2 linked regions of the Homo sapiens genome follow. The protein of the gene in region 1 interacts with the protein of each later gene in a biochemical or structural test. Each region holds a gene or a part of one and is shown on either strand. Other genes may lie near its edges.

The links.
Region 2: the proteins of KRT6A (region 1) and TCHP form a complex in vitro, tested with the Homo sapiens proteins (one study listed by BioGRID).

Annotation. Positions count from the first base shown.
Region 1 is NC_000012.12:52,486,644-52,490,540, forward strand, and holds the end of KRT6A (keratin, type II cytoskeletal 6A), read right to left. Parts: intron 3,426-3,897; coding exon 3,300-3,425; intron 1,906-3,299; coding exon 1,685-1,905; intron 1,461-1,684; coding exon 1,426-1,460; intron 1,313-1,425; coding exon 1,077-1,312; 3' UTR 533-1,076; downstream 1-532. UniProt on the Homo sapiens protein: Epidermis-specific type I keratin involved in wound healing. Involved in the activation of follicular keratinocytes after wounding, while it does not play a major role in keratinocyte proliferation or migration.
Region 2 is NC_000012.12:109,902,959-109,906,773, forward strand, and holds part of TCHP (trichoplein keratin filament-binding protein), read left to right. Parts: intron 1-68; coding exon 69-256; intron 257-962; exon of another isoform or gene 963-978; coding exon 979-1,189; intron 1,190-1,778; coding exon 1,779-1,835; intron 1,836-1,870; exon of another isoform or gene 1,871-2,056; intron 2,057-3,613; coding exon 3,614-3,682; intron 3,683-3,815. UniProt on the Homo sapiens protein: Tumor suppressor which has the ability to inhibit cell growth and be pro-apoptotic during cell stress. Inhibits cell growth in bladder and prostate cancer cells by a down-regulation of HSPB1 by inhibiting its phosphorylation.

The sequences.
Region 1 (3,897 bases):
TTTGTTCTATTTCCTCAGGATATATTTCTAGAAGTATAATTACGGTTCAGTGTATGCACATTTTAATTGTGCTTGATACATGTTGTCAGGCAAGTTTCTTGCTTATGAGGGCAATTATAATGATTAATCACATATCTGATTCTTTTGTCAAATAACTTGCTCTAGTTGGCCGAGAATATGTTTCTTAACTGGACAATTAGGCTGAGCCCTGGCGTAAGGGGAAAAGTGGTCCTGGAAACCAAGGCAGAGGGAATGGGATGCTAGTTCCTGGTATGGTCAGTTAAAACGGAGTGGACAATGCTGGTGGACCAGATGCCTCCCACTCCATTTGCCAAAAGTTCATATGGAATTTGATCTAGAAATACACTCTGAATGTCATGATACCAAGCTGAAGTTTGATGAACCTCTCTAAAGGAGGGGAGTTATGTGTATAAAGAATAGATTATCTTTTAAAAACAACTATTCACTTATCAGATAAAAAAGTTTAAGCCCAAAACTTTGGCCCCAAAGCAAGGCAAAGTAAAAGAATATATTGTATTATAAATCTGCTTTATTTAGCAATTGCAAACAGCGAAGAGCACAGAAATCATCACAGAGATACAGGCTTTGTACATCATAGGACTAGTCACTTGTGCTTTCATGGATACTGCCTGGGTGGGGGTTCACAACACTTATAAGTTAGAGAGTTTGAGAGCCAGTGGAAAGTAAGTGGAAGTTGTTCTGAAATAAGCCCCTGGCAATTTTCTGCAATGAAAAGGAGCAGAGGTCATTTTCTTATAATGCTCAGCCTCAGAGATAGAACACTGGAGGCAAGAAATTAATAATTTAGTAACAGTGAAGCTCCAGTGGTGATTACATCATGATGTAAAATCAGAGGTTGATCTGATGGTGAGCAATGGGTGCTCAGATGGTATAGAGAGAGAGAGAAGAAGTGAGGGCACTAAGCATCCATACCCAGCTCTACCTGGGACAGCAGGGGAGACTGGAGGCCAGGAGAGGAAAGGCAACCTGAGGAGAGGGCTCTGCAGCCAGAGAGGGGCCTGAGGACTGTGGGACCGAGAGCTAGCAGACGCACTTTAGTGCTTATAGCTCTTCCTGCTGGAGGAGGAGGTGGTGGTGTACTTGATGGTGGAACTGCCGCCTCCAACAGAGCTGAGGCCACCCCCAATGGCTCTGCCACTGCTGGAACTGAAGCCACCTCCAACGCCAAGACCACTGCCATAGGAGTAGCTGCTTCCTCCACCCAGGCCTAAGCCACTGCCGACACCACTGGCACCGCCATAGCCACTGGAGACGGTGGACTGCACCACAGCTGTGATGGGGAGGGGACAAGGACACAAGAAGCCATGGTGAGCTCATCCTGTCAGCCTGAGCCCAGTCAGAAGAGTGCGAGGGCAGGGGAGGAAGGCAAGCAAAGGTACTTACAGATGTTGACTTGTCCAACGCCTTCGCCATTCAGCCTGTGGAGAGGAACACAGGGAGGGTGAGACCTCAGAGAGCTCTTCCTTCCCTGGACCAGCGTGGGCAGCCTCGGTGGGTGGAAGAGTCCATGGGAAACTGCTCTTTTAGTTTTCTCTCAGGAAGAGCAATTATGGCCATGGGCAGTGCACCTTAAAGTTGTGCTCAGTGCCAGGAACCTTGAAGATGGACTCAGCTGTTGAAGGAGTTCGTGTCAGTTACCCACCTGCACTCCTCACCCTCCAGCAGCTTGCGGTAGGTGGCGATCTCCACGTCCAGGGCCAGCTTGACATTCATCAGCTCCTGGTACTCCTTCAGCAGCCGGGCCAGGTCCTGCTTGGCCTTCTGCAGGGCATCCTCCAGCCCTTCCAGCTTGTTCTTGGCATCCTTGAGGGCCATCTCCCCACGCTGCTCAGCATCAGCAATGGCGGCCTGCAGGTTGGCGCACTGGAAGAGGAAAGGAATAGAAGAAACTTGTCATCCGGTCTTCCAGAGGAGACTAAACCTGGCTGGTTATTTCCTAGTGAAGGGGCCAGGAGCCCAGAATTGATGGTGAATGAGCTCTGACTCTTCCTATCTATTGTTTTTTTTTTTATTTTGCAGTTTTTGTCCAGTCTGGTTCATTTGACAAAAACTCATAACCCTTTTTGTGAACCACTCTGTGGGAGAATGTGGATATTTACTAATGGGAGACACTGCAGTGGACACATACACTGGAAGAAATGTACCTGCTGGTTTGTTTGGAGTGTTGTCTCCACAGTCAAATCAAGACCACTTATGATTACCTCATATAGATGCCACACTAACATACACAAAATTAAGACCATCCTGAAGTGAGGTGATGAGTCTTCACATGAGACTGCTGAGACCTTGCCTTCCTCCCCCTCAGAATCTCTCATCTACTGTTCTTTGTCCTTTGCCCTTCCTCTACTCTCTCTTTCACCTTGAGTCTTGAGCAGATTTGAAACAATGTTCCTTGTGCTTTCTTATCTGCCCTTTTCTTTTTCAATTTGTTCCTTTGCAGTTTCCAAGTCAGTCTTCCTATGGAAATAAATCCAATTCCTCTAGACCAAGCTTGTCCAACCTACAGCCCACAGGCCACATGCAGCCCAGGATGGCTTTAAATGCAGCCCAACACAAATTCTTAAACTTTCTGAATACATTATGAGGGTTTTTTCTTTTTCTTTTTCTTTTTGAGACAGAGTTTTGCTCTGTCACCCAGGCTGGAGTGCAGTGGCGCGGTATCGACTCACTGCAACCTCCACCTCCCAGGCTCAAGCGATTCTCCTGCTTCAGTCTCCTGAGTAGCTGGGACTACAGGCACGCTCCACCATGCCCGGCTAATTTTTATGTATTTTTAATAGAGGCGGCGTTTCACCATGTTGGTCAGGCTTGTCTCTCACTCCTGACCTCATGATCCACTAGCCTCAGCCTCCCAAAGTGCTGGGATTACAGGCATGAGCCACTGGACAAGGCTGTATGTTTTGTTTTGTTTTGTTTTAGCTTATCAGCTATTGTTTGTATTAGTGTATTTTATGTGTGGCCCAAGATAGTTCTTCTTGTTCCACTGTGGTCCAGGGAAGCCAAAATACTGGACACTCCTGCTCTAAACCATGTTTTTGCAGCTCTGAGCATCGTGACTGGTTCTCTCATGTGTTTGTGTCATGCCATAGGTAGGATCTATGTCTCCTAAGCAGCAGGTACCCACTAAGGGTAGGAAATGATAGCCTCCTCTCCCTGGTTTTGATAAGTTCCAGGGGATTTTCCCTAATATAATGGTTGATGGCTGCCTGACGACCTGACAAGGAAATGCTTCTCTCCTCCATTGTCCCTCACCATACCTGCTTCTTGACGTGGTCGATCTCAGATCTCAGCCTCTGGATCATGCGGTTGATCTCAGCAATCTCCTGCTTGGTGTTGCGCAGGTCGTCCCCATGTCTGCCTGCTGTGACCTGCAGCTCCTCGTACTGCAGCCCAGAGGTGGAGAGAGAGACAGTGTCTACGGGTTCTTACCTGGGAGCGATGACTTTCACTTGTGTATCATGCATGTCATGAAGTGGACCTAAAGGCTTCTCCTCAAGAAACTTGAGGAAAAGTTGATATTATGTGGTTGGTGGATACTAAACACTGGAGTCACAGACCATCCTCATTATGGCACCACTGCCTGCCTAGTTTCTTTAGGGAGTAGAAATGTTCTGTACCAATTTCTAAAAGCCAGCAATCAGGGTGAAGCTAAATGCAGAGATGACTATGTCCTTGTCTATGGTAGCTTTCCTCCTGCATTGGGTTCTTTTTCCTTCTTGACTTGGGCATAAGTTCTGCAAATGTCTACTCTAATAGTGCAGAGTGCATGTCCTGTGAGAGGACCCCAGCTTCCTGTCAGGGGATGTCCCCAGTAAAGTCTGCAGTCCTCTGGTATTCAGGGATGGCACAGGGATT
Region 2 (3,815 bases), about 57 Mb from region 1:
ATGAGGCCAAGCTGGTGAGGGTTCCTGGGATTTGCAGTGGCTCACTTTCCTCCCATTCCTGTTCTCAGATGGCGCTCCCGACGCTGCCGTCCTACTGGTGCAGCCAGCAGCGCCTGAATCAGCAGCTAGCACGACAGCGAGAGCAGGAGGCCCGGCTTCGGCAGCAGTGGGAGCAGAACAGCCGTTACTTCAGGATGTCTGACATCTGCAGCTCCAAACAGGCAGAATGGAGCTCTAAAACCTCCTACCAGCGGAGGTAATTGTGCGGTAACTGCCGATTGGATGGAAGTGGGGACCACTTGCTGGTCAGGGGATGAGGCCTTAAGGATTTAGGGAGCGTAGGATTTGCCAGGCAGTATGAATTACCTGCATGGTGATGTTTTTCCAGCTGGAAATGGAAAAAAAGATCATCAGTGCAGCCATACATTGGCATTGAAAAAGATAAAATGATGCAGAAGCATATGATAGAATTTGGAAGCCTGGTTGTAACCCCATATCCCCAGAGACAGCCACAGTTAACAGTCTGGCACATATCCTTCCATGCTGTTTCCCACTGGTATTTGTGCTTAAATATACACACACAAAGCTACTTTTATAGAAATACGTGTAAAAACATGGAGGCCAAAAGCATAGGCTTTGAAGTCAGACCTAGATGGAAATCCTGACCGTGTCTCTTGCTGAATGTATGAGCTTTGGTTTCCTCATCAATCAAGTGGGGCTACAGCAGACCTATGCTGTAGGATTTATGTGATGGATAATATATACATTATTTATACATTTATACATTTTCTTTTTGCAAAAAACAAGATTTTCTCTTACACATACTATTCTGTGACCTGCTGTCTCTGCTTTGGCTGGGGACACATTCCTGTGTCGTCATGACACATCTACCTCAGCCTCTTTTACCGACACAGCAGAGCAGAGCACGTTCCCTGTGGCTGTAGCATGATTGATTCAGGCAGGCCCCCTCTCACCCAGCATGCATGCCTATCAGCGGGAGAAGATGAAGGAGGAGAAGAGGAGGAGTCTGGAGGCCCGACGGGAAAAGCTCAGGCAGCTCATGCAGGAGGAGCAGGACCTGCTGGCCAGAGAACTGGAGGAGCTGAGGCTGAGCATGAACTTGCAGGAAAGAAGAATCCGGGAGCAGCACGGGAAGCTGAAATCAGCCAAAGAAGAGCAGAGGAAACTGGTAACTCCCCAGAGGGCTTCAGGAGGCTGTGGAGCAGGAGTGTTCCCAGCCTGAGTGTGTCGCACATGTAGGGTCATTCCTGGGTGCTCAGGTCTGATGAGATGCCAGTTAACTCCAGAGCCAGCAGGAAAAGAGCTTAGGTCCTTGTGCAGGGACTGGGTTTTGGATCAGTTAGCTGTAGTCTCTTTAGCCCCTTCAATCATTACATCTGAGTGCTTTTCCTTTCTTCCAGTTCTGTGGGTCCACAGAGATCTGGGACTAGTCTGTTTTACCTTCCAAAGTAGTTATGTGAAACAGTGAGCCCTAATCTGTGCTTTTCAGCCTGCTGTATTATTTTGAGACCCCCTAGATAGGACCTCTGTGTAGCATCAGATTTTGGCCCCCTTTTGTCATCATTGCAAGAGTCACTTGGTAGTGCCATGTGGTTCTCAGAGCTGTGCATGTGAAGCATGAGGGTTTGAACAGTGGTTGCAGTGACGGTGTGAAGGGAGGCACTCATAGCCTGAGCTGACTTCCACTGTGTGTCATCCAAAATGTGAATGGATTTGAAAAATGACATCAGGCTTTCCATTTTGTGTTTTCTTGATAGATTGCTGAACAACTTTTGTACGAACACTGGAAAAAGAACAACCCGAAACTTCGAGAGGTGAAAATCAGAGATCTCCATTGATTTATCTAAGTAGATGAAATCATGTTTCCAGACACTTTTTTTTTTGAACACGTATCTTGTACCGGGTTGAAACAGAGGAGGGAACCTTGAGCCACCTGAAAAGAGCGCCAGGCAGAAGATCTGGCACAGGCTGCGCTGAGCGGCTCATTCGGTTGTTGAACAAATGTTGATTGAACCTCCGCTGCCTGGTCTGCCAGGTGCGGGCATGGAGATTAGACATGGTTTCTGCTCATTAGCTTGTGTCCAGCATGGGAGCTCATTACAGGGCAGGATGCAGGGTGCTGGGCCAGCCTGAGAGGATGAGCATGGGCCAGCGCACTCAACTCTGGAGGGGTTGGGGAGGCTTCCCAGAGGAGTTCCTGGGGTGGAAGAGTTTGAAGGGATGTATGTGTGTAGAGGTGAGGAAAGGATGTTCTAGGTTGATGTGACTGTGAGAACCAGGCTTGAGACTCGAGAACAGAGCGAGCCCTGGGAGCTGAAAGTGTCTGGGTGAGGCTAGGATGTCAGATAGTGAGGGAGAACCCCAAGAAATGACGCTGGCGAGGCAGAGGGTGCCAGACATCGGAAGAGCTTGTGTGACCTTCCTCCAAAGGGGCTGGGGGCAGCATACAGGATCCCAGCTGCATTTCAGAGAGACTCCTCTGGTAGCAATGTGCCCGCCGACAGGGAGGGGTGCTGCGACAGCCCAGCCGGGGGTTGGTGAAGGCCTGAACTGGGCTGGCAGGGGAGGGGGTGGCCTCTTGGCTTGGTGGCCTTGTTCAGTGGAGATTTGGCTGCAGGGAGATCATCCCTCACTGTTATTCATTTATTTTCAACTTACAGTTTTTGTATACATTTGGTGCCTTCGTGTTATTCGTAGTTACATTTAGAAATCGCCAGGCACTAAATAATGGAACATCTGGTGCTTTTGTGCAGTTTGCACTAATCTGTGGGAGGACTCCTTAGCCCTGTTGGCTTCGGTGGAATCATCCAGAGCCGTTAAATCAGAAAAGTTTATTCAGAACATTCAAGTTAATTGCCTATGTTCACAGCTGTAAGTTGGGAAAGATTATTTTAAAACTTTTTTATAGAGACAGGGTCTCCCTGTGTTGCTCAGGCTGGTCTCAAACCTGGGCTCAAGTGATCCTCCCACCTCAGCCTCCCGAGTAGCTGAGACTACAGGTGGGCGCCACCATATCCAGCTAATTTTATAAACAGTTTCCCAAACAAAAGATTTGGATTGAATGTTGTGATCCATTTTCTAATCCAGGAGATTGTCTGCGCTCAAATCTCTTACTAACAATGCTAAACTTGTTGCACCTACTGGTGCATCACTTGATACAGGGAGTACGTAGTCCATCTGCTTTGCAGAGGAAACTTCGGGGAGCCAGGCACAGGGTTGAGTCTTCTCACTCAGCTGTCTCCCAGGGCCTGGCATGCAGTACATCAACCCAAGGTGGCCTTTGAAATTGTATTTCCATTTCAGCGTCCAGCCCAACCCTAGGGCTAGTGGGAGGGAAGTCTCTGTTACTTTGTACCAGCTCAAAAGATTGGTGTAGGAGTGCCTGGTCCTTTGGTCTTCTGATTGACATGCATTCACACTATACATGTTGAAGTCACCCCACGCTCTCTACTAGACGCCTGTGCCACTGAGTCCCCATGAAGCGAAGTCATGGCCACGTTCCCGCAGGTGGCACAGAGGGCAGGAGCACACTGTCCCCACAGTGCCCATCTGTCTGGTGAGGAAATTCACATCGTCCCCCTTCCATCCTCAGATGGAGCTGGACCTTCACCAGAAGCATGTCGTAAACTCTTGGGAAATGCAGAAAGAAGAAAAAAAACAGGTGTGGTATGTGGCTCTGGGAATAGCCGCGTATTCTGCTGTGCGAGACTGTTCACGTCTTTGCATTCGTTTACCGTTTTCAGCATCAGTGACTCCAGTTAAGGAGTGTAGTGTACTCTTTTCTTAGTTTACTT